Homo sapiens: one gene and its partner. Changing the gene in region 1 together with any one later gene gives a genetic interaction. Each region holds a gene or a part of one and is shown on either strand. Other genes may lie near its edges. The genes, in order: AHCYL1 and GBF1.

What was found.
Region 2: changes in AHCYL1 (region 1) and GBF1 together harm fitness less than expected from each alone (positive genetic interaction), as found in Homo sapiens cells (one study listed by BioGRID).

What each region holds. Positions count from the first base shown.
Region 1 is NC_000001.11:109,975,236-109,991,155, reverse strand, and holds the start of AHCYL1 (S-adenosylhomocysteine hydrolase-like protein 1), read right to left. Parts: upstream 6,392-15,920; 5' UTR 6,104-6,391; coding exon 5,984-6,103; exon of another isoform or gene 5,613-5,983; intron 1-5,612. UniProt on the Homo sapiens protein: Multifaceted cellular regulator which coordinates several essential cellular functions including regulation of epithelial HCO3(-) and fluid secretion, mRNA processing and DNA replication.
Region 2 is NC_000010.11:102,233,652-102,248,730, reverse strand, and holds the start of GBF1 (Golgi-specific brefeldin A-resistance guanine nucleotide exchange factor 1), read right to left. Parts: upstream 3,200-15,079; 5' UTR 2,950-3,199; exon of another isoform or gene 2,851-2,949; intron 1-2,850. UniProt on the Homo sapiens protein: Guanine-nucleotide exchange factor (GEF) for members of the Arf family of small GTPases involved in trafficking in the early secretory pathway; its GEF activity initiates the coating of nascent vesicles via the localized generation of activated ARFs through replacement of GDP with GTP.

The DNA of each region.
Region 1 (15,920 bases):
TCTGAGATTAAGGCACCAGGCTAAATCCTTTAGAAAAATTAAACAGAGATAGAAACAAAAATGAAAGCAGTCTGAGTCTCTCAACAAAGGCATGGATGCTCCACTCTAGTTCTATGAGTGGCATGCAGCAAAGGCCACACATTTCTACAGGAGAAAATCAGTTATACATAATTAGAAGCAGGCTGTTAAGAGCAATGAGAAAACAGTACCTGCAGGGATGGGGGCGGGGGTGCTGGAGTACATACCTAAAATGATAAAGTCACAGTTCAGAAGTCTTTGCAATTATTTCATGTAATTCAAGGATTCTAGTTTGGGAAAACCCCAAACACCTGAAGTTTAAGGAAATAAACTCCTGGACTGAGACTGGCCCAGTGTCTGACAAATACCCACATTCTATGAGTGCATTATGTATTACGGGGGATGAATGGGGAATGGTAAGGTAGAGGACATCTCAACTCCATCAAAAGCTCTAAGATCTCTGTCTACACACCCCACCCCTGTAGTTAACAAAATGTTTTGGGGTTCAGTAGCTGTAAGCTCTATATAAAATAACATTTTTGTCAGAAAAAAATTTTCTTATTGAAAAGACATTCCAATAGAAACTTCTTTGTTTTGGCTCTTTAACATTTCAAAATTAGGCTCTCATTTGCACTATCATGTTGCATCATCCAGAGAGTTATAAATAGGGTGGCCACATAAACCAGGGTAACTTTCAGAGCTACGGAGGCACTCCTTGGACTGCATGCTAGGATAACAGGTATAAACCAGAATTGCGCCAGGCAAACCAGGATATATGGTCACTCTAGGTACAAAAAAACCCCACTAATTACTATTTACTAAATGCTAACCCTCTCAACCATGTATATAGATAGCACTATCATTGTTCCCCATTTTACAGATGAGAAAAGGACGTCACTTGTTGAATGTCCCACAACTATTAGATGGTAGAGACTAAAGGTAAAACTGACTCCAAAAATCAGTGCTTACCTTATGTTGTACTACTACTCACAGTTTTAGGAACAGAAACGGGAAGTTAAAGGCGTCTTATGTAACAGCCAAGCAACAGTGGGACAAAAGAACTACTTGAGTGAGTCAAAGGAAAATATGGAATCAGAAAAGGAAAGGCAACTGCAATTCTGTGTGAATTTTTATTAACTGCTTACTACACAATAGGCACTGATAGTATTGACAATAATCAAAAGGAAAATTTGTGGTAAGAATTTGTCTTCAACTGGGGATTCTCAGATTTCAGGCTAGAAAAAATTCTGGTCTATGCACGTAGGTTGCCCTTCACATGACAGGAATGCTTCTGACGCACCTCATTAGCATGTGTTCTGAATTACTATTCAGTTCTAAATTATAATAAAATGTATCCAGTATAATCAGGGTTGACATTCTTTATAAAAATGCAATACTCACATTCCCAAACTTGAGAAACAGGTACGTATAAATGATTCTCCTTTATTCGCCAGTTCCTTTAAAACAACCCCAAGAGGGCATTAAAGTGCTTATTTACAGATCATTAACTACTCGGAGTGGCAGAGTACACTTGCTAGGAGTCACAGGCAACTAAAGACCTGCATGATTCCATGTATCAAAATATCCTTTATAGACAACTTTCCAAGAATACTATATTGGGGTGGGCGTGGTGGCTCTTGCCTGTAATCCCAGCACTTCGGGAGGCTGAGGTGGGAAGATCGCTTGAGCCCAGGAGTTCAAGACAAGCCTGGGCAACACAGGGATTTCCCCATCTCTATAAAAAATAAAAATAAATTTTAAAAAAGAATATTATATTGGGTAAAACACTCTGGATCCAAATGACACACTCCTGATAAAAGAAAAGGTATACATTTGTAACCTTGGCAGCAAAAGATCTAGACAACTACTGATCTAGAAATCTTCTAACAGATTTCTGTTACAAGCTAAATGTCTAAAGAAACTTGGAACAAAGTAATTTGGAAACTAGAGTGTAACTAACTAAACCAAACAAGAAAAAGAGATGTAATCAATACCTGCGGAGAAATCTTAAAAAGAGGATCTTCTTACACCCCAACTCCTGTTTTAAAGACTGCTACTACAACAGCAGCCACTCTAAGGAGAATCAAGAGATACTAATGATGTGAAGATAGGAAATGCCAACCTATGAAATCTCCTTTCAGTGATTCTGACAAGTCCTGGCGTAAATTCTATACAACTGCACCAAAAATTAACCGTAAGATAACTCTGATGACAAAAGGAGAAACCTGGATTTTACCTATCGGGTTAACACCCAAGCTGTACCCATTGGGGCTCTACTTGGTGTGCTTCCTAAGTCTCAGCTGACCCTTTTGATGAATTAGTGGCACATAGCTTCATTCAAATAAAGAATATCCTATAAACAAAAGTAGTTTCTTCTGTGCTCTTCTCCTTCCCCACATTTTGCTGATGGGTCTGACTCCACAGATCCTAGGTCAAAATGTTTAATGGATCACTCTGGAGAGTGCCTTTAATGTTCAGAAGTTCAGAGAACAGCAAATGTTCTGAAAGGCCTTCCGGAGAAACATGCTTATTGTAAGAGCTCTCCAACAAGTTGGAGATTTGGGTTTACACTATGAAAAAAGAATCAACTTGACACAGTGTCAATTTCCAAAGGTCCAAGGACAGTTACCACTCCTGTTACACAAAGTAGCAGCAAAAGAGGGATAAATAACCAGTGGTTATGGGGAACTAGATTACTTACTTGGTTTGACCGATAACTGCCAACATTAAACAAGGATCTTCTTCAGTTGTGGTACACTTAACTCTTAAAACTCAAGGATTCCTTTTCTTACCTCAAATTTTCCTAGCCATACCATCTGAAATCACCAGTGACAGTCGTGAACAAGCCTTACAATGTGAATTACACTACAGCTATTAAGACATTCCCGTGAAAAATTATTTTAGAACTCTGTGTCAGGAAAAGTCGTCCCCTTGAGGAATTGACATGTATTATTTCCCATGCCTGCTAAGGAGACTGTAACTATGATTCTTTTCATCCTCTGGCTGCTAAAAGTTTCAAGTTGCATGTGATCAACCTCATCAACTATCTTAGCCCTCGAGGTTAACAATATTTTTTTCATTCTTTCTATAGTTTTTACTTCCTTTTATATCACATATATGTTCTGTGTTATAAGCCACTTCAAATGCCCATTGAAGAAAGAATATAAATATACGAATAGACTTTTAAAAAATTACACTGCTATCTTAACTCCCCAACATGCCCCTATCTCCACCTGTTCCAAAAAAAATAGGCACTTATTTGGCAGATGAGGAGATGCAGGTACAAAAGCTAATTAATTTGCTCAAGGTCATATCCCTTTAGTTGACTTCTCGACACCCAGACATCTCAAATCTTCAATCAAACCAACAAGTCCTATTTTGTTCATAGCAGTGTGATAGACCTTGGCATACAAAACTGAGTAAGTCATGATTATAGCTGAAGAATCTAGATATTTATGCTTTTAATTGATGGACATCCACTCTATCTCAAACAAAGCAAACAAAATGAATAAAAGCTGACTCTGTCTCAAACAAAGCAAACAAAATGAATAAAAGCTGACCAGAAAGTGACACTGGGATCTGATCTAACTGAGGACCATCAAGGTCACCCTGAAGTAACCTATATCCTCTGGCATCAAGAACATCCTCAATTCCTGAGGGGCCTCAGGGCTTCAGAATAATCCAAGGATTACTGGTCTAGAGCCAGGGTAGAATTCTCATAGGTGAAGGACTGCACCATTTGAAGAGGTCTTTTTCTCACACCATTAAGTACCATGCCAAGTTACTTTTTTCCCTCTTACTTTTCCCATGCTTTCACGTTATCAACACATGGCAGAGGTACAAAAGTGACTTAAGTCTTAATGTTCAATTCAGCAGTTCTGAAAAACAGATTGCCTAGGACTTGCTATGTGACCTTGACTAGTCCTCAACTGATCCATTAACTTAATAAATGTCTTTTATCATCACTAGGGAAAGGGTAATTAGTCATCATGAAACACTTTATTACAAAGTACTACGTAAATGCTAAAGAATAAAACTTAGAAGAGAAAGATTAATAAGAAACACGGTGGGGCACATTTACTGGTAAATGGAAACTTAAAACAGGGTCTTCCCACATTCCTGGCAGAGCCTGCTTCTTTTAGCTAATGCAATATAAGTCTAAAATCATCAGCACTTGGCCTGACAATAATACACATTAGTAATATTCCTCCTGGGAAGAAGAGAGGAAAAGGGATAGTTATTCATGGTAGGTGGCCACATGGACATCTCAGTTACTAGTTAGCCAGGTGAGCAATTAATATTTGAGTACCTACTGTATGCTGGGTACAAAGCTAGGCACACTGGATACAAAGGTGAACAAGAATCCCTGCCTTAATGAGTTTTTACAATCTACGATATAGACTTTGTCTTATCAACAGTGGTACTTTCAAGAATACAGATTTACTAACATAAAGGCAAGTAACAGCAAAGAAGACAGAGTCTGGGAAATTCAGGTATTAGGGCTTTCCCATTCTTTCCTCTAACTCATCTAAGGTCCCACCCTCAATCATTCTGCTTATAAGGACTGTGACTGTTTCTCCAAAGAATAGTGCAGATTGCAAAGGGTCATTGTCCCAACAAAGCAGTCAACTGAACTCTCAGCACTAAAGTTAATCAGATGCCTCAGAGTCAAGGAATCTTCCACAATCTTTTAAAGGAATTAAATTCTTAATTTTGTGAGAAAACAGCGAAAGCACACAATGGCGACTCGTCTTTTTTGATCTTGCATTTGATTTCTGGAGTGGCAGGTTAATTCACTTAAAAAAAAAAAAAAGAGCCATCTCTCCCACTTAAGACAGCTTAACTAGTTGAAGCCTCAAGGACTTAACTATTCCTGCAGCCCTTGCTTTGTTCAGCCCTGCATCCCATTAAACACTGGATGCAGGCAGAGACAGCTTTGTAAGACTCTGTCTTTATAAAGAAGGGAGACATTTATCTGGGTTCTCACTGGCTTCAGGAAGGTCACCTCTTTGTAAAGGTTCTCTGGTCTACTGCTAACTGGGTGCCAGGTGTATGGAAAATCAAGATGTGGTTGGCAGTAAATGATGAGAAAGCAATAAGGATCCCAATTCCACCACTCGGAGAGCTAGTCAGACTAAAATCTCCAAAGGTTGCCATTTATGAGAGAATTCGAAGGGTGTCCTTTGAGTCAACCTACAGCACAATAGATCAAACTTGTTCTGCCTCAAAAGTACAGTCAAGAGTGAGCAATCTTCCCTTACCACCCACTACTCCAACCCACCCAAGCTCCTTTCTCCAGGGATGCCTAAGTGATCTATTCACATGACTCTAGGATCCACCTGTATCCATGACAGTGTCTGCTGTCACCAACCTCCAAATGTCAATTTCTTACATATTTCGAAGTAATTGGAATGCTGTAGAAAGTGAAAATCATAGATTTTCAGTTTCATGTTACCCTCATCGCTTTCACCTGTATATCAGAGCTAGCTTCACGCATTCTTTTCTCTTGCCTCCCAGCTATCACGCAGTTGTTGGATAAAGCGGCCACTGCTCCCAAAGATTTGATGGAAGTTCTGCCAGATTTACCCACTCACCTGAAGGGAGATTTTCTGTACACCCCATGCCCCCGGACTGGTCACAAGGGTCAGCTGAGTTGGTTCACCCCCTCCCACTCTCGTCTTCGAGGCCCTTCATCCAGGAAAAGTCAGTCGCAAATTTAAGGCCTGGCCCTGTCGGGTTTCAAAACGATCCCGGAGGACTTGGGCCGAGGGACAAAGGAAAGCGAGGTCAGAGGCGGCCTTTCAGCCCGGGAGAGGCCTGGGGCCGCACAGCCGCCACCCCCTACATCACCTCCGCCGTCCCCAGTCACCCCCAGAAGTCCCAAACTAGCCAGAGCCCGGGCTTGCTCGCGTCCCTTCCGCGAGGCCGGAGCCCGAGCCCCCGCCGCCACCCAGAGCCCCCGCACCTTCTTGGGCGCCTTGGTGACGGTGGCCATGAAGGAGTACTTCTCGGCGTCCTCGATCTCCTTGGCCTGCTTCAGCTCCTCCCCGACCCCGGGCAGCGGCATCGCGTCAGGCATCGACATTCCCCGGCCGGCCCGGCCAGCGGCTGACCCGCCGCCCCCGCCTCTTTCCCCCTCTGGCGCCCGCCCGCCTGCCCGCGCGGCGCCCTCCGACACGCGATCGCCCACCCTCCTGCCGGCCCCTGCGTCGAGCTGCGTCGGCTTCTGAGGTGCTGTGGCCCACGCCTTGTCTGTTCGGCAGCCCAAGGCAGCCGGACAGCGACGGCGGCCACAAGAGAACCAGAACAGCAGCTCCGAGCTCCGACCTGCCCGCGCCGCCACCTCCGCTGTACGCAAACACGCACGCAAAGCGAGGGTAGAGGGCGGTGACGCCACGTCAAGTACTGGCAGCTCCCGGGAGGGGGAAGAGGCGGGGAGAAAGGGCACTCTGTCGTGACGTCACCACGCTGGGCTGGGCCACAGAAGCCGTTCCTCTCCCGCTCGAGAGCGAAGTTCCCAGGGTGAGCAGGACCCTTTGTGCCACCAGGTGGCACCATCAGCCCTGGGAGCAGCGCGAGGTTCATGCAACGATGCTGCGGAACGGAGGGTCTTTGGGCTGCGGGGTTCCTGGCAAGGCCTCAGAGGCGCATGAAAGGGGTGTTTGGGAGCAAAGACCAGAGCCCCACACGACACATCCTACAGCGATTCCTAGGAAATGTCCGGGGCTCGAGACAGCCCACTCACTCACTGGCCCAGCCCCAGGCCCTTTGGATTAAAGCTCCTTCCCAAGGGGCCGTGCCTGTCTTTTTGACTTCATAGGGGGCAGAACTGACTCAGAGTAGTCTGGTTTCTGCACAACGCTTTGTGACTTCCTCCACCACCATCTCCGACTGGGCCTTGCCTGTTTACAAAACCCTCATTGGGATAGGGCTGATGGGTATGAGGGTGGAGACCAGGAGAGCTGATGGAGAAGTCCCCAGCCAGAATGGCCTTCCGGTCCTTGCTCCACCAAAGCATTAGACCCTTCCAGCTCTCAGTGGGCATCCAGGACATTCATGGACTGCTCACACCCTTTTACTGGGCCTACTATGTGCAGTGCCTGTGCTGAGGCCCTGCTGGCAAAAGGACATGTGACGCATTTTATGTTTTGCAAGGCTTAGTTCAGCTGGAGAGGCAAAACCTGCTTGTATCCTAATGTCAGCTGAGGTAGCTTGTCCTTTGAGATTCAAATGACATTGGCTCCAATTACCATGTCCTGTGGAAAGTCCATTACTGGGAGGACTTGGATTTTCATGGTCACCTCTGGCTCTAGTTTTTTTGCCTTGTCTGGCATTTTATTCACTATTCTGGTCTTGTGACTGTTTCTGTAGCTCCTGGGGTCAATTCAGCCGCTTCTCCTTTCAACCCCCACCCCATGCTAAACAACTACAAAATAAGGCTGTAACATGTAGTAAAACTTTTAATAAAGGTTTGTGGGTCACAGGGGAGAGATTACATCACACAGCAAACAATTTAAGAACACATTTCTGAAATGTTCTGAAAAGTTATTTTGGCTGTCTTACCACCCGGGGATTTCTCAATGGCCACAAGATCCCACCACGCTCCCTAGCCCATTGCCATCTAATCTAGCTTCCTCCTGTTCCTCCCTTCCCATCTCTGCACCTCATCCTTCCTTCCTTGATAGACTCTGGGAAGCCAGATTCTCCTCTGCTGTGCTGAGCAATTCCAGTCTTCCCAGTGCCCTTTCCCTAAATTCCTCCCCAGGACCACCTTTTTTTTTTTTTTGAGATGACGTCTCGCTCTGTTGCCCAAGCTGGAGTGCTCTCAGCTCACTGCAACCTCCGCCTGCCGGGTTCAAGTGATTCTCCTGCCTCAGCCTCCTGAGTGAGTAGCTGGGACTATAGGCGTGCGCCACCGTGCCCGGCTAATTTTTGTATTTTTAGTAGAGACGGGGTTTCACCATCTTGGCCAGGCTGGTCTCGGATCCTGACCTCGTGATCCACCTGCCTCGGCCTCCCAAAGTGCTGGGATTACAGGCGTGAGCCACCGCGCCTGGCCAGGACCACCTTTTAACATCCAGAAACCTCCCAGGTTTTTAACAGGGCATACCCTTTCAAGAAGGAAGTTTTGGTTTGAAATGGCATTTTCCCCACTGATTTGTGTTCAGGGCTGGGGAGAGTGTGAAATATTCACCTCTAGGGCCCTAAAAGTCTTAGTCAGGGAATCCTGTGTTCCAGCCACCTAGCCTCATGAGACTGTCTGTTTGAAAAGGGCTGTAGAAGTGCCTGGAAGAATGCACCCTTTGCACATCTGCAGACCTTGGTCTTGAACTGTTTGTATTCTTTCATCTGCTCACTTTTTTGAGCACTCACACTTCCCTGTCAGGGGCATCACTGTAGCAGAACGGGAACAGAGATGGAGACCAGAATACCAGGTTCATCCATGAGGGTGCCAGACTGACATCTTTCAGCTAGGGGTCAGGAACCACACCTGGTGCACTAAGGACTCTCTGAACATAAGGCTCACAGTGGCTTTCATCCTTGTGGGTTTGCCCAAACTGTTGGCAGAGCCCAGGGATCAGAGATGCCTGCCCAAAGACTCGAGGCAGAACCCATTGGAACCAGGGATGAAATCTCAAGTCCCTATAGTAGAAAAATGTGTGACTTAAGAAGATCTTTTTTTTTTTTTTTTTTTTTTTTTTAAAGAGAAGCATCAGTGTATCTGTCTTTTGGATTTGATTTTTAGAACTCACTTTGTCTAAACATGTTGTCTCTCAGTCCCCCAGTTCTGCTGTGCATTTAAGCATCCAGACTGTGAGCTTCCTGGAGATTGAAGTTCAGTCTTTACTCCTCCTGGACCAGGTCTGCCCTAGCACCAGGCTCACAGTGTTGTCTGCTATTGCTGCTGCTACAGAGGATGACAGACAGGGCCAGGCCTAGAGCATGCAGTACCTTAGCAGTCTGGGCTAAGAAGGAGATCAGCAGGTCAGACTCCACTCACCTGAGTGGCTGGCCTGAGGGGAGGTTGATGAGCTGATGTAGGAGAGTTCGGGGACTCAGACTGGAAAGGGGAAGGGCAGCACCCCCTACCCTGGTGGAAAGCATTAGGCCTATGTGGTTCAAGTGAGGCCAGGGGCCCGGGACATTCTTGGAAACCAGCCACTGCAGGGGGCATGGGTGGCTGCCATCCCTTCCATCACGTGTGTGCTGGAGAGCAAAGAGCTCACCCAGCCAGGGAGTGTGACAACATAACATCCGTGAGAATCATTGCATCCTGTCTCCCACCCCCAAAACCCATCCTAAGATAGCCTCACATGGCACAGCTAAGGCGATTGCTTCTCATGAATGCCAAGAGATGACTTGTCTTCAGCCTACCCACCCACCTGACTCAGCACCTCTACTGGCAAGCTCACTGCCCTGAACAGCGCATCCACACACAGGTGAGAGACCCCCCACGGGGCAATTGGAGAAGAACAGGGACCCAAAGACAGATGCACCTGCTGTGTGTGGTGGTGGGAAGTCTCCAAGGGCCTGGAGCGAAGACCCTTGCTAGAAAGGAGTGGCCTAAGGGCAGTGGTGAATTGGGAGATGCTGTCACCAGAAATGTAGTGGCATTGGGCTACCACACGTGGGCTTGGTCTTGTTAATCAGATTCACTGTTTGTCCACCCCCAAATTGATGTTCTACATTCAGTCATTTGTTCTTTTATTTATAAAATATATATTGAGTGCCGAAGAAGTGCCAGCAGCAGGGCTAGATGTCAGTCGGGACTACAGAGATAAATAAGCTGAGGTGCTGATCTCTACGTGGGGACAGGTGATGGGGGTGGGGTGCAGTGGAGGGCAAAGGGATGACACAGAGGGAGATGCTGCCAGAGCTGAGTCTTGACAGATAAGCAGCTGGGCAAGGGAGGGAAGATTCTCCAGGCTGAAGAAACAGCCTGAGAATAGGCATGGTGATGGAAACAGCTTGGCATATTACGGGAACTGTAAATATCCCCATGTGGGTGGGGCACAGGGTGCAAAGCAGGGTGAAGTGAGCGCTGAAGCCAGGGCCAGATCCTGCAGGGCGTGTTAAGCCCTGGGTGGGTGGTGGTGATGTCTGCCATGCTGGGGAGCACAGGAGGAGAAGCAAGTGTGGCTAGAGGGGTGGAGGGGGGCTGCTGAGAGGAGTCAGCTTGGGACATGTTGAGTTTGATATGTCTGTGGAGGGCACTGTCCCTGAGTCTCAGGGGAGCCCAGGTTGGCACCTTTTGGAACTGCCCGCTCCCTGCCAGTCAGGCTCCCCACCAGGGGGAGGCTGTGCTCCTCCTGAAGGCCTTTCACCTCCTGTCGGCCAGGTGTTATGTTAGCCCTCTGGAATGAAAGTGCAGAAAAACTGCAGAGATCTTGGGTGACAATGGAAGTTCGGAAGAAGGTGAAGAGGGCAGTGGCTCTGTCTCTAGCTCTCCAGCATGGGCAAACCCTCCAGCTCCAGGCTTCTTTCTGTCCCAGAACTGCTACCTTGCACAGCTCTAGGAGGCACCACTGACATTGTAATTATTGTGAAAGGTGCCCTGGAGCACCACTTCAGATTGGTCACCTACCTCGCTGGCCCTTAGGGACCCCCAGAGGGTGGGCTCCCGGTTGCACCTCTGTGGCTGTGGGTGCTGGTCCTCAGGCTTCCTGGCTCCTACTTCCCACCGAGCTCCCTCCCTCCCTACCCTCAGCCTTTTCTCCTTCCCCTTCTCCAGTTCCAGTGGGAAAACATTCCTCCTTCTCTGTCTCCCCCTCTGCTTATTATTGTCATATTTATTAGGATCACTTACTCTTTATTATCATTTTGAACATTATAGGAAAGAAAAATCCATGAAGATTTTTTAAAAATTTCTTTTCATCTTGTTAAGTTCACTCCTAGTTCTTAGCAATTTGCAGAAACTCATTTTTACATACCTGTGATTGGTAGGTTCATGTCCTTTTGTATTCTGCTTTGATCAAATTACAATATTTCAAAAACACATGACCCGAACGGAGAGCATTGACATACTTGTTATTATTGTCCATGTTTTCCAAGCTTTCTGTCATATTGCTTTATGAGTTTGCTTAACTGTTTTCCTATTGTTCGGTATTTGAATTGTTTCCAACTAGTGCAATATAATGGAATGGAGGGAGGTGGTTTCGGAGTGGGTGTGGGGATGGCTTTCAAGCAAAACAGGCGAAGATGGGTCACAGCACCAGCTCCTGCCAGAGAAAGGGAGCAAAAATGTAAGTAGTGGGGGCAGTTATAATGACTGTAAACAAGGACCAGGATAAGGAGGCACCTTTTGGCCCTAGAGGATCTGAGGTCCTGTGTCTGGAACTCGTGATAGCTGACTCATGGCGAGGCTGCATGGTGTGAGGAAGCAGGAAAACTGGGCAGAGATGTGGGCTCAAATCTTCACTCTGCTACTAACTTGGCCACTGGCATCCTGGACCTTTTTTGACCTCCTCTTCCTCATGCAAGACAGGTTGATAGCTCTCCATCTGGGGCTTGTAATGACCTAATCCAGTAAGATCATAAATATGCAAAAGCTTTGAACAAGTTGCAAATATTGTGCAAATGTAAGGTACTAAGATGTGGGTCCAGGCTAACCATGGAGGGCAAAGGAGCTATTGTTGAGAATTTGGAATTCTCTCTTCGCTCCGCTTCCCGGAATGACAGGAATAAGCAGAAACCCGTCTGCTGCAGGAAAGGATTGTCATTGCTGGTTTTGAGTACTTGTTGACATGTGGATGTGTTTCCTCAAAAGGGAGGGCTGACACTGCCCCAGCCATGAGAAATTGCTGCTTTCCTGGCCCAACCTGGCCCCGGGGTCTGGCTGTGTGACCAGCAGCCCCTTGGAACTTCCTCACATGCTTTTTTTCTAGGTTGGACCAGAGATCCTGATGTATCTTACTTCAGTTCCCAAAGCTGCCACACATTAAAGTTCATACTGAGAAGGCATCCACCAATTGTAAACAATGTTCAAGAAATCTGTTCTGATGACTGTTTGTGCTACTTTGTATGTTTTTTCCTGCTCTTAAGTGTGTATATGGGAGCGGGGAGGATGGAGGTGGGGATGGTGAAGAGTTTACCAAAAAAGTAGAAATTGTGAAACTGGCCTTGGACTTTGGCCTCTGCCCAGTCAGTTATTTACTGAGCATCAGCTTTGTCTCGGGAGCTGTGCTGAGCGCCAGGGATCCCACAGTAAACAAGACAGACACAGTTCCTGTCCTCATGGGGCTTAGAGTCCATAGCAGAGCTTTGTCAGAAAATCAAGGTTCCCAGTACTGTCTGAGAGGGCACACCCTCTCCTTGCTGTCTCCATGTGCCCCACCCTGAGCGGTCTTCCAGAGTGTGTGGCATGCTTCCTCTCCCTGCTTCTGAGGCTGTGTCTAGCCCCATGCTAGGGAAGGAAGAGCAGTCTCTCTCCCGAGTTCAGAGATGCTGACCCACCCTTGAAGTAGCCCCAAGTCTTTTAGAAGCTTCTGGGATACTGCTTCCCTGGCAGATGTGCTCCCCCAGGGCAATGGTGAGTGGGCTGGTGAGATGTAAGTGTCAGCTTCTGGGATAAGGGAGGACACTGCCTGTCTTTGCCTCTCCCAGGCCTGCCTCTCTACCCATAACCTGCAACCTGCCTCTAGGACTGGAAATAGTCCTGGAATCGCAGAGACACAGGTGGCCAGGATGGTTTGATATCCTGGTGGGTACTCCTTCAGGATGCCTGCTGGGGGCTAGTAGAGGATTTGTCTTGACTGGAAAGGCTCTGGGGCTGATGGAGTGGAACAGACAGAAGCTGCCATCTCCCAAAGCTCAGGTGCTCAGGGTCTTGCCCCTTTGCCCTGAAGGGCCCGGCCTGTGGCTGGTTTGCTGGAGCCAGAGGAGAGTGGTCGGCTGCTGGTGGTGCGGAGGCTGCTGCGGGGTGGGAGCCTGCCTTCCTCACCCTCTCTGGTGTGCAGGGCGGGCCCCATTGCATCACCCTTGGAGTCTCTGCTCCTGGCTTTGCAGCCAGCTGGGCCCCTGGAGGAGGGACTCTCCCTGTTTTTCAACAAACCATTAACCATTTCACCCTCTCAAGCCCTCCCTGCAACCAACCTGGATTCCCAAGGCTGCTCCTCATGCCTCTCAACCCTGGTCTTGAAAACCTCCCTTCTCCTCCACGATTCCAGGAGCTCTGCCTGGACAGCCTTTTAAGGGTTGAAGGCTCCACATGCACAACGCAAGCCTGGCCTCTTCCCCGGGGAAAGAGTTAAGCCTTGTCCTCCACACCCTCAGCATTTGTCCCATTCTGCAGCAGTGAGGACAGAGCTCTTCAGCCTCCAACATGAGCTCATGCCACTTCCACACTTCCACAGAGTCCTGACGGAGGGTCAACACAATATTTTAGACCAACGGCAACGATGGATCTCATGCCAGAACCAGGAGCTTGGACCTTGGCCTCTCCACAAAGGCCCTTCAGCCATTTCCTGCAGACCCGCTTGGCCCTTTGACCTCTTTATAGGGGTTCAGGGAAGGAGTGGGTGATGTGAGGGCCTGGAAGGGCTCAAGAGACTGATGGAAGAGAGTCGCAAGTACACAGTGTTTCCCTGTTTCTGTTCGGGCTAGATGAGGAGACATCAAGGGGTGGGGATGGAGAGGCTGTTCCAGTCAGTGAAGCCCAAGCCTCATTCCCGCTCGGGTCTTTTATCTCCCAACCCCAACATTCCCTTCATCGCCCCACCCATTCCAGGGCCTGAAATAGCCCGAAACTTCATCCAAGCCTAGGCCCAGGTCCCAATTTTAGTTCCACAAACATTTGGCTGCTCCATAGCTTGCAGGATCCTGAGCTGGGTCCCGTGGCGGATGCAGAGATGAATGAGGCCCAGCCCTTGCCTTCAGGGAGCTTGCAAAATGTGTCCAGATGACTGCAGTCAGAGGCGGAAGATGCCCGTGGAAGAAGAAAGAAAGACGCTCCCCGTAGAGGGAATGGGGCAGGCTTGTGAAGGAGAGTTGGTTTTGTTGAATCTTAAAGGATGACTAGGATTTCAAGAGGCGGACATGAGGAACACTGACTTTAGATGGAGGGAACAGCAAGAGCAAGAATATGGAGGTGTGAAATGTAGGGTATGCTCTGGAACATGGCCAGCAATCTGGTTTGACTGGAGCACATGGGAGAATGTGGAGCTGCTTGCGGTTTCTGTGGATGTGTGAGTCTGTCTAGATTCCCTACAGGCTGAGGGCTCCCAAGTGCCAATGACCCACAGATTCCCAGAGCTTTACAGAGCAGCCTATTTGTTAATCCTCTATTTAGGAACAGAAAGGTGAGAAACTTGCTCAGACTCTAAAGCACATTCGTGACACAGCGAGGACTGGACCCAGGTTCTCCCACCCTTATCTGTTTTGGCTCAGTTCAGGTCCCTTAATCCAGGAGGCTTCGTCCGTGGAGTTGGCTGACTCAACAGACTCTGCCATCCCTTAGGGGTCCAAGGAGAAGTATGAAATGAACAACCAGTGATCATGGATGAACACATGAATGCTCCTCATGGTGTTGCATATTTGCGTATTAATGAGGAAGGAATAGCTTCACGACACTTGATGGGAAAGACATGCCAGTATTTTTTATTTTCCCACATTTATTTAAATCTGGTCCCAAATCCCATCCACAGTGGGTGAAAAGTCTAATATCATTTTTAGGGCTTCCTCTCTTGGCTCATTGGATTTTACAAAAAATAAAACAAAACAAAAACCCCCAAATAAACAAAGAGTTCGTTCTTGCAGGACTGGAGCAGCTGGTTGGGATTCAGTGGAGCTCGCCACTGCTAATGGCTGCCCCTCAGACTGTAGGCAGGTCCTCCCTGTCTGTGGGTACTGCTTCTCCAGGCAGGCTGGGGAGCTGCCCACTCACAGTGGTCTCTCCCAGCAGCAAGCTACTTAGTGGGCTTTCTTCAAGCCCCCTCACCCCCAGCTCTACCTCAGGTTGTGCCATCCCCAGGGTGGAGGGAAGAGTTCCAGTTGGATCTCAACTGCTGCCACTTGTGGACACTCGTGATCTCCCACCCTCTTTCCTGGTGCTGGAAGTCACTGCCCACAGGTAAGGCTACTCTGCTTTTCAATGGAAAAACCACCTTCCAACCTCTTTGACATCCTGGACTTGAAGCCCTGGCTGCCCCCTTGGCAGGATGTGGAGAAAATGCTTCACATTCTTTTCTGAAGAGTCCACAGCCAAGAAAACCAGATATGGCTGATTTCTCAATCATGTTATTATGCCACACTAAATGTTCAATTAATCGCTATGTTACACTTACAACAGCAAAAGAAAAGTTCAGCAGTAAGTGACTAAAAATACCGTACAGTCATAGAAGGCCATACTGTGTAGCCTGGCAGAAGGATATTTAATGACATGGAAAGTTGTTCATGATAATATTGGTAGCTGAAAGAAAGCAGTTTTGAAAACAGCATCACGGTGTGACCCAATTTTTTGGTAAACATGAAATTATATATTTATATAAAGAAAAAATAACTGAAAGGTAAACACCAAAATGCATATTTCCTCTATGTGGTGAGATTACAGATCATTTTTATTTTCTCATTTTTGCTTGCTTCCTTTTTCAAAAATTCTGCAATGAGTGTGTATTACCTTATGTTGCTGAATAATTCAAATTAAATTTTAATTTAATTTTTTTTTTTCCTGAGACAGTTTTGCTCTGTCACCCAGGCTGGAGTGCAGAGGCACAGTCATAGCTCACTGCAGCCTCAAGCTCCCAGGCTCAATTGATCCTCCCACCTCAGCCTCCTGCGGAGCTGGGACTACAGGTGTGTGCCACCACATCCAGCTAATTTTTTATTTTTAGTAGAGATATGGTCTCACTATGTTGCCCAGGCTGGTCTTGAACTCCTGGGTTCAAGCAATCCTCCTGCCTCAGCCT
Region 2 (15,079 bases), on another chromosome or scaffold:
CCCAGAGGTCAAGGCTGCAGTGAGCTGTGATCGTTCCTCTGCACTCCAGCCGGGGTGACAGAGCAAGACCCTGTCTCAATAAAAAGAAATTAAAATTAAAGACAAAAAAAAAATAAAGGCATGGGTTGTCCAGTACACAACAGTCCCCACTAATCCTAATACATTCCCATGGGACTCAATTAACTCATTTACATTACCTGCCTGGCATTTAGGCACATGAGCTCGTAACCCCTGGTTTATATGATTGGCAAACCATTACTTTGCCATCATACTTCCATGATCATTTACACTACTATTGCATCTATCGTAATTTCCACTACTACTAGAACAAATAATCACTTCTATGATCACTTCTATTATTATTGGGGTTCCAAATCAGCACACTGCTTTATTATATTTTCATTTAGTTAAACAACTGCAGTTGAACATACTGAAATATTAAAAAAAAAAAAGAGTAACAGCTAAACAGCAGCTCATTATATTTACATAGCTCTTCTAGCCTGAGGATAAAATGTCAACAAAAACATACACCCTTAAATTCAATCCCACCATTAACCCAACAACAGAATCATTCTAATCAGTCACACAGAGCCACAGGGATATAGTGTGTGATCAATCAATGAGAAGTGTCATACAAAGATTAGGGTGATCCTTGCAGTGAGTACTCTATAAATAGAGTCTCCTCAAAAGCAAGAGCTGTGTCTTCTTCCTCTTTAGCTGCCCACAGCAGCCAGTCTAAGTACCCTATCAATGAGGTTATTATGTGAAAGTGGCAGTCATCCTGACTTCTGGAAAAGAGGGAAATAAAATAGTAGTGTAACTTTGAGAACTCTGAGCTGAAACTGGGATTGGTGCCCAGCTACTGAGGAGATATGTCTATAGCCTGAGTTCCCACTGTGCCAATGAGCATCACTGTCAAGACTGGAACATACTGTCTACAAACACCATTAAAAAGAAGCTCAAATACAAGCTTGGGACTTGTATTTGAAGGATGAATTTTCTGATTTGTGGGTAGGAGTGGGAATTATTCCTATCTAGAAAATTATTCCTATCTAGAAATGACATTTAGGATTAAAAAAAAGAAAGAGAGAGAAAGAGAAAACGTTTTGATGCCTCTATAGTCACCCTTAGGCTCAACTGAGGATGACTGGATCCTGGATTGATCACACTGCCTACCCAGAGACTAGATTGCCTGTTATGCAAAGCATATCAACTCAACAGGGCAATGGCCCAAGTGAGCAAGGCAGGATCATCAAACCTGGGTACCTCCTGAGGTATGTCATTTCATTTGCTGCGTTCAACTACTTTCTTGGGGGCGGGGAGAGGGGAGGAATTCTACAACTTAGATCAGCAAGTTAAAATGCAAATAGTTTCCTGTACCATTTCCATCTAAATCAACACAGGTGAAGCATAAATAATGCCATCCCCCTTCTCCCAACACACACAAAAATTTCAATTTCATAAGGACGAAGGTAGGAAGGGAAAAGGGAAATTATGAAATTTCAATTTCATAAGGACAAAGGTAGGAAAAATTGAGTTAGTCATTCCAAGATCCTAAATAGTTTTCTCTTCTGACACTATGAGGTTTTGATCCTCCTTGTTACTACCTCATCATGCAAAAGTGCAAAGTGTTCCTGACTGCCAGGGCCAAAAGCAGGCCACAAGTCCTGATCACATACTGAAACTAATCCCAGATAGAGATAACGTTTATTGAGTGCCCACTACATACCAAAAGGTATTAGGTTGATCCTGCTCTTAACCTACTACATGCTCTAGCTAGGCCACTGCACATACATGCTACTACTTTTAAGAAGTGCATTAACTGAGCAGTCCCAAAGCAGACCTTTCCATTTGTATCCTCCACAGGGCCTAGAGTGCCTTTTATACCTGAATTAATGCACAAGTTTCCACATTGTGCATTAAAAAACACCATCTACACTATTCCTTATTTCTAAAAGCATTCGTTACCCTTGGTGGACTTTTATAGCTTTACAACACAGCAGTTTATCAAAGGTCATCACAGTGCCATAAACTACTCTCTAGGGTTATGTTCCATCATTCACTCTGGGGCTCTGACCCTACAATTGGCTGAAAATCTCTCATGACTCTTTTTGCCCACTAAACATAATAGGCCGACAATACCAAACTTTGCCAGTATTCAAATATCTCTCTCTGCTGTCAGTCAAATATGTCATAATAGAGTGGTTTCCTTATGATTAAGCCTCATCTCCTTAGTGAAGATCTGAGAGAAAAATGTCAACAAAAACATACACTACAAAAGAATGCCTGTGAAAGATTGTATAAAGGAACAAACAGGCCCAGAAGATAAGTATAGTGTTTACATACAGACCCAGACTGGCAGCTGAGCTGTCCTGTAAGAGGGAAGCCTTCTCATAGCCCAGTTCCCTGCGCTGCTATAACCTCAAGCCTTCCACACGTCCCTCTGCTGACAACCTGATTCTAGGGTGCACTAGTTCATCATTATTAATGAAGCAGTTCCTTTGTATTAGTGAGGCAATCACAAAGAAGTAGACGCTGTACAGAATCTAGAGAGACTTTCACATCTAAAGTCTGAAAACCCATAAAAGTAGACACAATGCTCCTTAGGTTTGCTTTCAGCTTTTGAGTACTGGGCTCTTCAGGATGCAGAAAGCGCTGGAAAGGAGAAGCTAAATACTAGGTCAAGCCTGGGAAAACAGAAGATTTGGGCACCTGCAAAGGATCAGTAATGAGAGCAGAAATCGCCCCTCCTGCGGCAGAGGCATGACCTTTGCCCCTGCATACCTCCCTGTTCCCTCCCACAACAACCCTTCCCTCGTCTTATTCCTGTCCGCTGCGTCCTTAGCCCACCTTGGCTCGCCCAATTTAAGGGCCCTTCCCACTAATTCCCTATTGCGATGTCAGGGCGGCCTTCACGACACCGGAACTCTAGGAAGAGACTTCGCTGACCTGTCAGCGGATCCAAAATGGCGGGGCCTAGTCCCAGGACCGGCAGCCGCTGCTCATGTCCAGCCCGCACCCCGGAGGCGTCTCCGAGCAGCTCTCCCGGCTCTGGTAGCAGATGGGAGAAGAGAAGGAGCCTGTTTCCTGGAAATTGAGGCCGAAGTCAGGGTGGGACTGCACAGTCCGCCAGGATGAGTCGTCCGGGACGGGCAGTAGAGCCGGGTACCTTCCCTGTCAGCTCACTGACGTGGTAACTAGCCTCAGTCTAGCCCGCTGCCTGGTAACTGCGCGAGCCCTGCCGCGCGCAGCCAATCATAGCTTTGCACCGTGAAAAGTAGCATTCCGACTATCCAATCGAATAAAGGAAATTGGCTTCAGGAGGCGGGTAGTGCCTAAAGAAGCGCGATTACAAGGGAAAGAAAGGGTATGTTAGGGGACAACCAACGGATACGAGTACTCTCTGAGTGACAGTTTAAAAAACCAATAAAAAATGAGGAACTGGGCTGGGCGGCTAGAGAGGTGGAGTTAGGTAGAGTTCGGTTGCAGTGCGCGGTTTGGCAGTGGCTGCTGGGCATTATGGGGAAAAAGGCTACAATTGGCTGGAAAGGGGCGGGGTCCGCTTTGAGAACTTGAGCGGGCATCCCTACTCCCCTGTCCACGTATTATCAAAGTTACCTGGGCCAAGACCATGCCCCTTGAGGAATCACTCCTTTTCGAGGCAGCTCTGGGCTCCCTTCATTCTAAAAACAAGTCCAGCGATCTATTCCACACCCTGCTCTCCTCGCCCTCTTGTCCACCTTCCCTGTCGTGGCTTCTCACAGTTATGTCTGTCACGTCCCAACTCTGTTTCAGCGTCCTCTGCCCCACTCCCATCATCCAGAAATAGAGAAAATGGGACGTAGCAGAAGCCCTGGATATCTAATTTAAGTCTCTTCATTTTACATTATAGGAAACAGCCCCAGGGTGGAAGGCTGGGCCCATGTTCACATAATTAGTAAATAGCAGAGCAGAGAGACGAACCCCTGGGTCTCCTCACCCCCAGGCCAACTCTTTTCATCGCCTTTTGTCACCTCTTATGCCTTAGTATATCGGGCTTTGACTCCCGGTCTGCCTTTCATACCAAGCCTTTGACGGGCCTTATCCACCAGGCTAAATACGCAGCTTAGCCCACCTCATCAGTGATAGGAAACAGAAGTCTTTCTTGTTTGCCTTAGAAACGCTAAGGGGCCTGAGGGTTGGATGCCCACCTGTTTTCACTGTCTTGCCCCCAGCTGCCTCCTCCCCTTGCAAGAGATGATAGAGGTTACTAAGCTATTTAGAATTACCTGTATTACCTGGAAGTGAGAATGCGTGAGAAGAGGACAAGAGGATGGGTTTTCTCCTAGGAGACTGAATCATGAAATTCCCAGCCTATTTGGGACACTAGAGCCCCAGTGTCCCTGCAGACCTGGAGAAGCTGCTGGGAGGCAGTGAAAAAAAAATACCTAATTCTTTCCATACATCCTCCCAATTATGGACGACCCAAGTCCAGGGAAGCTCTATAACTAACCACATAGGAAAGTAGTCTCAAAACCAGACATCCAAAGACCATCCGTGTGCTACGATGCGCTATTTTTTTGTTTTGTTTTGTTTTTTTGTCTTTTGTTTGTTTGTTTGTTTTGAGAGAGTCTTGCTTTGTCATCCAGGATGGAGTGCAGTGCTGTGATCTTGGCTCACTGCAACCTCCACCTCCTGGGTTCAAGTGATTCTCCTGCCTCAGCCTCCCAAGTAGCTGGGATTACAGGCATCTGCCACCACACCAGGCTAATTTTTGTATTTTTAGTAGAGATGGGGTTTCACCATGTTGGACAGGCTGGTCTCGAACTCCTGACCTCAGGTGATCCACCCGCCTCAGCCTCCCAAAGTGTTGAGATTACAGGTGTGAGCCACCACACCTGGCCACGATGCTCTAGTGTAAAGCACCCATCAGATATCAGACGTGAAGAACCCCTCAGTAACTTCCTACACCTGCACATTGGGCTTCTGGTCGGTGGGTCCAGCTGAGGATCTAGCCTCTATCACCCAAAGAGAGTCAGGGAAAGAGGATATACCATCATAGCACCTCTTTCCACATTACCTCAAAGCCATTTTCCTCTTCATTTGAAAACTGAGAGTTGGTGTCCTGGGCCTGTCTCAGATTGAGAGGTCCTGGAAAGCCGATTGGAAAATCCTCTAAGTGGGCCAAAAATTTCTGCTCGCCAATATCTACTTCTACATACCTCCAGAAATTCATCATTCTAAAAGCATGTGATTGTGCAATAGAGATGGGGAGGAGAGAGATGACAATTCCCTAGTCCCTCCTAACCACTAATCATCATCTTACCAGGCAGAACATCTTCCTCATAGATTTCAGTGTGACATTTATTGAGATTCTACATTATGCCTGGGAATAACAGACATGGTCCTTACCCTCCTAAATTTTATTATCATAGCAGACAACACATAAGCTGATCCCTTCAATATGGTGGGTGGTGTAATAGAAGGTATACACTGAGGGTCATGAGAGCAAGGGGCTAAACTGAGAGTTCAGAAAAGGCTTCCCAGAGAAAATAAGACTTGAGTGGAACATTGGAGGAGTAGGAATTGACAATATAAAGATGGGTTACTTTCACAGGAAGGGCCAGAGGTGTGCAGGACACTACTAGGAAATTGGAGATGAAGACAAGGTCAGGTCCTGAAGGTCTTGTATGCCAGGCTAGGGAGCTTGACCTTTATCCTAAGGGCAATGGGAGTCACTGAACAGTCAAGACATGACTGCTCAGATTTGCCTTAGGGGCATATTGTGTGACTGGGCTTAGGCTCTTTTTTTTTTTTTTTTTTGAGACAGAGTCTTGCTCTGTCGCCCAGTCTGGAGTGCAGTGGCGCGATCTCAGCTCACTGCAAGCTCTGCCTCCTGGGTTCACGCCATTCTTCTTCCTCAGCCTCCCCAGTAGCTGAGACTACAGGCACCCGCCACCAAGCCCGGCTAATTTTTTGTATTTTTTAGTAGAGATGGGGTTTCACCGTGTTAGCCAGGGTGGTCTCAATCTCCTGACCTTGTGATCCGCCCGCCTCGGCCTCCCAAAGTGCTGGGATTACAGGCATGAGCCACAGTGTTTGGCCTGGGCTTAGGCTCTTCGGAGCACCCAAGCAACATAGCCTAACTGGGAGAAGAGAAGGAGCCTGTTTCCTGGAAATTGAGGCCTAAGTCAGAGAGGGCCGAAGTCACAGTCTGCCAGGATGTTCCTTGGTCATCTGTCCTGTCCCTTGCAAATTCCTAACCAGCAGGCACCAAGGCCACACCTTGCCCACAGGACTTAACCTGGTACCACCAGCGGGAAACCAGCCCTGCTGAAGGAGGGAGAGCACAGCCTAAGCAAGACAAGGGTACAGACTGAAAGGCAATGCCTTTGGAGTGCCCAGCCCAAGCCCTGAGATCCAGCAGGAACCTCCTCTTAATTGTTTTGCGCGGGGAGGGAGATGATAGTTACTCGTCCAAGTTCACTCAGTGATGGTGCAGTTCGTGGCAGCGTTGGAATACTACTTTGGTTTGTATCATTCCAAACCCTGCTGTCTCCACGAAGTCACCTTCCTTGGAGAAGAAGGGGGAAATGAAGAAGAGGAAAGATATGAGGAAAGAGGAGCAGAGAGAAAGAGAAATGAGTCTTTTAAAGTGGCAGAGGAAGGAGAATGGTAAACAGCAGGAGCGAAGCGGCTGAGGAGAAAGAAGAGGAAAGAAAGGCGAGACGTGGGAGGATTGGAACAGAGACAAAAGGGAGGAGAGACGGACAGCGACAAGTGGAGAAAATCGGCGAAACTTGAGTGGCAGAGAAGTCTGAGCGCTGAGACCCGGCGGCCCCGTGCGCCTTCCCACCTGGCGCCGATCCACTTTCCTCGGGGTAGCGGCCCAACCCACTTCGCTGCCAGCCGATCCCTTTTACCCGTGGCTACCGGGACCACTCTACTCTCGCCCACTTGGCTCTGCCTAAGCGTCCTAGCCGGAGCGCGGTCTCTGCCACGTGGGGAGGGGCGCGGCCGAGTTGCTGAAGAGCGCTTCTGATTGGCCAGAGGGCGGGGTTCTTGGCGTCTCGCCGGCCAGACCCCTCCCTCAAAGGCGGGGCCTGGAGATCCACAGCTGGAAAGGGCGGAGCCCCAGCAGGGCAGCTGGAAAGGGGCGGGGCCTGACGCGCGCGGCTCGCCGCGGCGGGCTGGGGGCGCCCTGGTCTGCCATAAAGTGAATGGGCGCCGGCTGGGGGTGGCAGTACGCGGTGAGGCTCACTCCCTCCGAGAGTCCAGGAGCGCCCGAGCGGAGAGGCGGCCCGGGAGCAGGGGGGCGGCCCCCACTCCGGCCGGGTGCCCGGCCCCTGGCCCCTGCCTGCCCTCTAGATCGCCGCCGCAGCCGCCGCTACTGGGAGTCTGCCTGTTGCAGGACGCACTGTGAGTGTTTGACCATTCTAAGGACAGGGGCTCATGGGGCCGAGGAGCTATTGCTGGACCTTGGAATCCCTAAAACGAGACCTGGGGCAGCTGAACTCCGGTGCCTTGGGAACAGGTCGAGAATGGGAGGGCGGACTGCAGACCTGGGGCCAGGACTTGGGAAAAGGGAAACTCAGGGTAAGAACCAGGGGATAGGGAAGGGGGAGACTCAGAGGATCCGGAACGAAGCCGGAGACTTGAAACCAGGATAGGGGCTTCGCGAGGCAGGGAGTAGGGAGTCTGGAAACCATTACCAGAAAGCGCCCTGGAATCCCAGGGCACGGGGCAGGCGGCCAGGGAGCGAAAGGGGTTACAGAGGCCCTGGCCAGCGGGGGAGCTGGCGGGGCGGCCCCCAGTGTGGGGGCAGTTGACGGCGCCCGATGCCCCTCGGCCTAGGCTCAGACTCCTGGGGCTGGGAGCCGGGGTGCGCCTGGTCGCACACGCTTCTCTTCCCAGCTGCTCCGCAGTTGGAATAGGAGCTGTGTTGTGAGAGCCCGGCCGCGACTGAGTCAGATGGCCGCTGTGCGGATCAGAGTGACCAGGCGGCGGGTATAGTGGATCTGGCTTGGGGTGTCTGGGCCCAGAAGGGTCCTGACTTGAGGCCGCCTCAGAATCGGACAGAATGTCCGCGGTGCATGGGGCTCGGAGCGGACAGAATGTCCGGGTAGCGAAGTGGGTCTCTCCGGAGCGGGAGTTGTGTCTGGCAGTGGCGGACAGAATGTCCCTGGCTGGGTGGCATGTCCGTCTACCCAGCAGCGCCTGCCCAGCTGCTGCGTGTGCGATGGGGTCGGCTGCGGTGGGTCACCTCAAATCCCAGCTCACACTTTGCAAACTTGTTTCAGCTCCTTCGGGCTGCGAAGCTGTGAGCAGGGAGCGAGAGTAAAGGCTACAACCTGGCCTTGGGGTGAGGTGGGCTGGGACACATGCCCCCTTCAATTCAGAATAGATCAGAGCATCACTCTGTACTTCCAGAATCCAAATTTGAGGACAGAAGGCCAATGAGGAGCCTGCTAGTGGGAATCAAGACCAGGAAAGGAAGGAATAGGTGACAAAAGGCAATGGGAAAACAGGAAGGAGCTGGGTACAAGCCCCTGGCAGCCTCAGTTGCCCCCTAATTCCAATACAATTAACCAGACACCCCCCAGACTCCTTGCTGGAGTATCAGGCGACCAATGGCTCCTTCCCTACAGTGGGCAGGAGCCCAGGCCAGAAGAGAAAACTACAGCCCCATTAGCAAAGCAAATCCTGTGGTCCTGTTTCCCTTTTTCTTCCTCAGCCCTACCAGTCCCAACACCACCCTGGTGGCTGAGCGGAGGTGGGAAGGAGGCTCATGGAATCCAGACTCTGGAGTCCAACAGGGGGCTATCTGGCCCTCTCAGTCTGGTTGGGAAGGATATCTTGGCCCTACCTAACAGCCGGGTTTACTTTCCCTGCAGCTGGGATACAGCCCTGACTCTGCTGGGCCCATACAGTGACCATCCACCCTGACCCCAATTCTAACCACAGCTCAATTATGCTGAAGAGGACAGAACAGGGAGAACGAGTCCATATAAGTGAGCAAGATAGCCCAGCTGGGGACTGAGTTTTCACAAGGACAAGTGCAAGGCATTGTATTTAGCAATGAGTAATCTAAACAGTGGTTTCAACCTTTCTTACCCTTCACCTGTGAGTGACATACAATACGTATTCCCCATACTCCCATGTCCATTCCTCAGTTCTAAAGTTTGCTTATTACTGGCTAGGATTCTCAACTTTTGTTTTTCATTTGCCCTATTTTGATCAATATAAAGACACACCACAATTATCCCCATCACATTCTGATACACTTTTCAGGGGCTTGTGCTCCCATTGCTGTGCTCCCATAAAATCACTGAAATTATAGGTGAAATGAAGGACTCTGTGTCAGGAAAGGAACAGGGAAAGCATTACAGATGGTTCCCTGAAGACTTTAGCTCAAAGTTGGCTTTTGCCAAAAAGGCCAAAGAGGTGGTATCATAATGAAGGTGATTGGAAACAAAAGACAGAACCTTTTCCCACCCTTGCATAAAGCCTTGTAACTGAACGCATGCCTGGTCACTGGCTCTTAGGAAGAATGTCATGGGCCTAGAGTAGGGTCAGAGAATGATTGGCAGAATGGGGAGCCAGGGGTTGCTGGTGAGGGCAAATTTCAAAGTTTAGTCCTCTGGAAGGTGAGACAGGATGGAAATCTACAGCATAATAAAAGACCTAGATATGCAGAAGAATTGCTTGCTCCCCAAATCTTGAAACTGGAGATGAGGGGGCCTTTTAGAACTGGAGTGATGCAAGCTCAGGATGAATAGAAAAATGTTCTTTGGCACACAGTGGGCAGCATACTTCCAGAGCTCATTTCCAGAGAGATGATAGAGGCAGGAAGTAGAAATGGAATCCTTCAGGGTTTGGAAGGATCAGCACATGTCAGAGTCACAAATGGCTACAGGGTGGAGGGAGTGAGGCATGGAAAGAGCAGAACTAGATGGTTTGAATCTCTTCAAATCTCTTCAAACTGTGTAACCTTGCATCCTGCCTTCTTAGAGGTGTAATGGGGATAGGCACTCCAGCCATGCAGGGCAGTTGTGCGAGTTAAATGAAATTATGTCTGTGAAGGCCCTCTGCAAATGGAGGAGCATCATATAAATAAGAAGCACTGCTATTATTATGCCCAAGCTGCAGAATCTTTGTTTGGAAAAGTGGGGCTGAGACTTAGAGCAGCCTAATCTCATCCCTGATGCAGCCATAGGAGGGATCTTAATGACAGACGGGCCACCCTATCGTGGACTTCAGATGCTGGCCACTACCCCTGCCGCTGTCTGAGAACTCTGGGGAGCTCCCCAAATGCTCAGCCTGTCTACCAGGCCAAATATCTCTGCCTGCCTCCTGCTCAGGGATGGGAACATTGGCCCAGGACTCAGGTTCAGGACGGGAGGGCAAACGCAGCAGGCTAGAGCTGACTTGTGGTGACTGAAGGATGGGGCCAGTAGAATCTTTTCTTCTCCATTCACACTAAATGATGCCTCCTAGACTAACCTGAAGGATCCATTAGGTCCTGAGCTTTGGGGTGTCTAGGGTGTCCATGGCCACTGCCAGGGACTCATGAAAAGAATGATGGGGAGGAAAAGGAAAAGATCATCAGTGGGGTAAGAGTTGGGGGAAGACAGAGAGGAATAACTTTCAAAACTCTATCTCTCCTTTCCCATTGTCCTGCCCCGGGGCCTTTTTTACACCTTTCAGTTAATAGTTTCTCCTTTCCTATTTCTTCCCTGCCCAACCCTTTATGCTCACCATGGTCAAATAAAGGTCACAAAGATGCTGTTTTTTGTCACACCCCTGGATACAAGCCTCCAGTGACCCCTACTGCTTGGTGCATTGCTTCTCATAGTGGGGTGGGCGGGGGAGGAGGGCAGTACGGGAGTGGAGGAGGCATGACACACAGTCTAAACAGGGCCCATCTTCCTGGTGTGGTGATATCACTTGAAGATTGGGGGGTTTTATATTAAAAAAAGCTTTATTTTTATATTAAAATATTTTATAATCCATGACTAAAGTATGGAATAGAACGAAAAATTTGTTTGCATTTTTAACATAAAGCTGGTGACCTCAAAACAATTTCATACTAGTGGCAGCTGTTTCAGGTCATGCTTCTGTTTTCTAGTAGATGTTGTTTTTGACTGGTCTTAGGGTTTTTTTCTTTATTCAGGGCTGTTGCTCAGTGTGAATCTTAGCGGTTTTTGATGAAAAAGCTGGACATACTGTAGCCTAGACTTTGTCAAATCTGAACCACTGCCCCTTGTCCCCCATTGGAGGCCCCCTCGGTTTGACTCGTTTCTCTCTGCAGATCTCCCGTGGCCTACACTGAGACTCTGACTAACCTAGGCTCACCACTGCCCTCCCAGCCTGCCAGCTTATTCCCAACACTGCTGATTATTTAGAATGCCATACCCCTTCTCTTCCTCTTGAACTCCCAATTCAGTCACGTGCCTATATTCTCTGAGCTCCCAACACTCGGTACCACCTTCCATGGGCTTCCCTCTCTCTGATCTCCCACAGTCTGGGAGTCAGACCCATGCGGTCCATCTTTCCATCCTGTGCTCTGTTTGCCTCCCTACACTGCAGACTCCTACAAGATAGGGTCTCTGCCTTACTGTTCTTGGGATCCCTCTTAACACCTAATACTTGCTGAAGGAAGGAAGCAAGGAAGAGCAGGAAGACTGTGGAGTCATTTCTCTGATCCCCGAATCGTCCCTTAATAACTTGAGTGCTTCAAATCTTTGCTGCAAATGTGTCTCGATTTGCTCCCATTTGCACACTGCAGTTCAGCAAACCATAGAGTCTGGGTGCTCAGCGTCCCTAATGAACATGCAGCCATGTCCACTTAAGGACCTCACTTCAGTTTCATGTTTATAAGATGAAAACATCACAACTCCAGCTCCTCTCATCTCTCCATTTAGCCCCTGAATGAGAAAGGTTTTCTCCTATTTGAGTTCCAGGTTATGCCTCCAGCCTCAGGCATTATTATTGCAACCGATTGTGGGCTCTCACTATGTCCCTGGTCTACCTCTCTGGCTTCAGGACTTAAGTGGGTCCACATGACAGCTGACTTATTGCCATGGGGTTGTGTCTCTTGGAAACCATGGCCTCCCCACTGTGGCCTCCCTGGCCTGGGATCTGCTCTCCACCTTCATATGTCCTGGATATTTCATTCTTGCTGCAGTCCATGACCAGGCTTCCTGTAATTCCAGCCTGTACTACAGAATCAGAGCATACCTGTAGGCCCTCTGTACTCCCTGGGCCTGGGATTGCCACCCTGATACCAGTGGGACTGGGCCACACATCCCTCACATCCCTAGCAGGGTGTGGCAAAAAGTCTAGGGGTGGGGCCGGCAGCCCCCTTCCAGAGCTGGACTCACCATCACTGTTATCTTCTGACTCTCTCTGTCCCTGCCTGGGCATTTCTTACTAGCATCAACCAATCCTGCGGCTTCCAGACCTACTGCTTGTTCTTCCCTATCCACTGAGTGAGGCGAAGTCCCTGGCCTCAGTCCCAACTCCCTAGCTTCCTGACCTCCAGCAGTTTGGGGGAGCTTAATCTTCAGCCAGCCTGTCTCCAGCTCAGACAACAGCTTGGCGCCCCCAGCCTTTGCCTGACCAGCCCACCCGGACGTGAGTCGGCTAGAGGTCTATGCCCCCACCCTTCCATCTCTCTATTGCCTGCCTGGCTTTACTGTTCTTTCCTTCTCTCTTCAGTTTCACGGTCAGGTCCCTTCTCAGCTGTGGCTCCTCTCTCTGCTGTTACTAGCCCATGCAAGAGCCTAAAGGCTTCATTCTTTCCTCTACCAGTCCCTTGTCCCCAAAGTGGCTCCCAGCTTGGGTTACTCTGCCCATTTTGCTGTTACCTTGTTGACTGGGTCACCTATGCTCAGGACAGAGTGTTCACAGCATGTGTTGCCTATCTCTCAGTAATGCAGCGTACTCACCTTCATTCACCAGGGAAACACTTCACTGGAGGATACAGAGTCTGGGCAGATGACTCACTCAAGGAAGGGCAGACACAGGGATGAGATCTTAGCCACCACTCCACCCTCAGTGCCTAACTCAATGCCCAGCTCATAGAATGTGCTAAATAAACATTTGTTTAATGAGTGAGGAAAAAAAACTACTCAGGTAGAGTTTTATCCCTACTCATATTTACATGTTTATGTTTTTATCTAAACCTTATAACAACACTGAAGGCAAGTAGGGAAGGGATCATGAACTTCCTTTCGGAGATGAAGAAATGTGCTCAGAGAGGTAAAGTAACTTGCCGAGGACACACAGCTAGTAAGTTGTACAGCCAGGACGTGAATCTAGATCTGCTGACTCTAAACCTAATTTCTTTGGGCTATACCAGATGACTTTCCTGAGAGGGGCCTGGGCACTTTCTGCCCCTCCTCCCCACCCCATCCTCTAGCTCCAGCATTCTCATGCCTTCTCCTCACTCAGCAGCATCCAGTGCAGAACACTCCCCTGGCCCCTTGGCCTGCTCCTCCCCCACACAGAGTCCTTAGCTCCTGGGACTGAGAGCTGAGGTTCAGAGGGGCCAGGGAGGCGGTGGGGGGGTGGGGGGTGGGGGAAGGGTAATAATGGCTAGCTCCAAAACAGCCCCGGCAGCTGTCCCTGTCACAGAGAGGAGACTGTGTGACGGTACGTGTCTGTCTGCCTGGATGTGGCAGCGCATGTGTGGGAGAGTGTGTGTTTGTGTGCCCCTAGCTCCAAGTCCAAGTGCTTATTATGTCTGAGTGGGGGCCTGTGTGTGTCTGCACATGTGTCTGTCTGTCTCTGGGAACACGCAGCCTGAACTCGGCTTTCTGGCCTCGGCTTTTCCTCGCCCATATCCCTTCTCACCCTGCCTCCCTCTGCTGAAATAAAGTGAAAGCAAGATGCAGGTATGGAATGCCGGGGACAGGGTAATTTGGAAAACTGCAAGTCGGGAGCCAAAGCTGACTGGAAGGCTAGGTGGCAAGGGTGGGACTGCTTTTCCCACAGGTAAACCCCTCTCTGGGTTTTTTCCCAGCTCCATGTTGCTTCCATGGCCTCTGGAAAAGTCAGGGGGATGATTTGCATTTCAAGGGCATCTTGGGTATGAAGTAAGGGGTATGAAGTAAGGGGAGACTTCAGAGCACCCCTTTTTCCAACTCTCAGTTCTAACCCTTCCTCCCTCATCTTCCCAGCCAAGGCTACCATAGTTCCTTCTCAGGGACATCTCCCTTCCATCAGAGCATTGTTGGCCAAAGTTTTCCAGCTCCAAACCCCCTGACCTGACCCGACCTGGAAGGGGAAGTAAGCTGAGCACACCTCCAGTTCTGGCCTGACTTTTCTCCTGTCCTGGGTTCCCTCCAGCCCTGTCTCTTCACACCCAATAAAAGGTCCAAGATCTAGACCCCTCTGCCTGTGGAAAGAGCAGGGACTCTTTCTCAACCTCCTGCCTTGACCTCGGTTCCACTCCCAACCTGGCTTGAGAGGTGGGGTGGGGAGTGGGGGCACAGCTGTGATCTCTGAGCTGTTGAAGGGGGCATTACCATGTGCAAATACAGGCTGCTGCCCATCTGCACCTCCCTGAGAAAGGCTCCTAATAAATCCAGAGCAGCCAAGTGACACACATCTCAATCTAGGCTAATCCACCACATTAATGCCATCCTGTGCAGCCTGCATTAAGCCCCTGTTAATGGGGAAGGGGTGAGAGAGGCAGAGAGGCCCCTCCCACTCAGCTCTCTACCCCTTCCCTCTGTCCCTAGCCTCCTTCTGTTCTCCTCCAACCAAAAGGCACCCAGAGTCTTGAGCCCCAGTATTGCCCATTTCCCTTCCTCGCAGCAGAGGGGTCCTGGGAGAGCAGGCAGAAAAGGGGACCCTGCGGGGGAAACTTGGAGAAGGACCCTGGGAGGCTCCTGGGCAATGTGAGGCTAAGTTTGGGAAAGGAAGTATGAGTAGGAAGGTGGTCTAATGAAGCTCCTGCCTATGGCCTGGAGCAGGCTTGGTAGAGGCTGTCCATGAGTGGAGCAGTCACTGGTGGGATGCAGTGTGTGTCGGTGCAGGCATGAGACCAGGCCCGGCCCAAGCACCCAGTGGTTTTTATACTTGTGTTTGATCT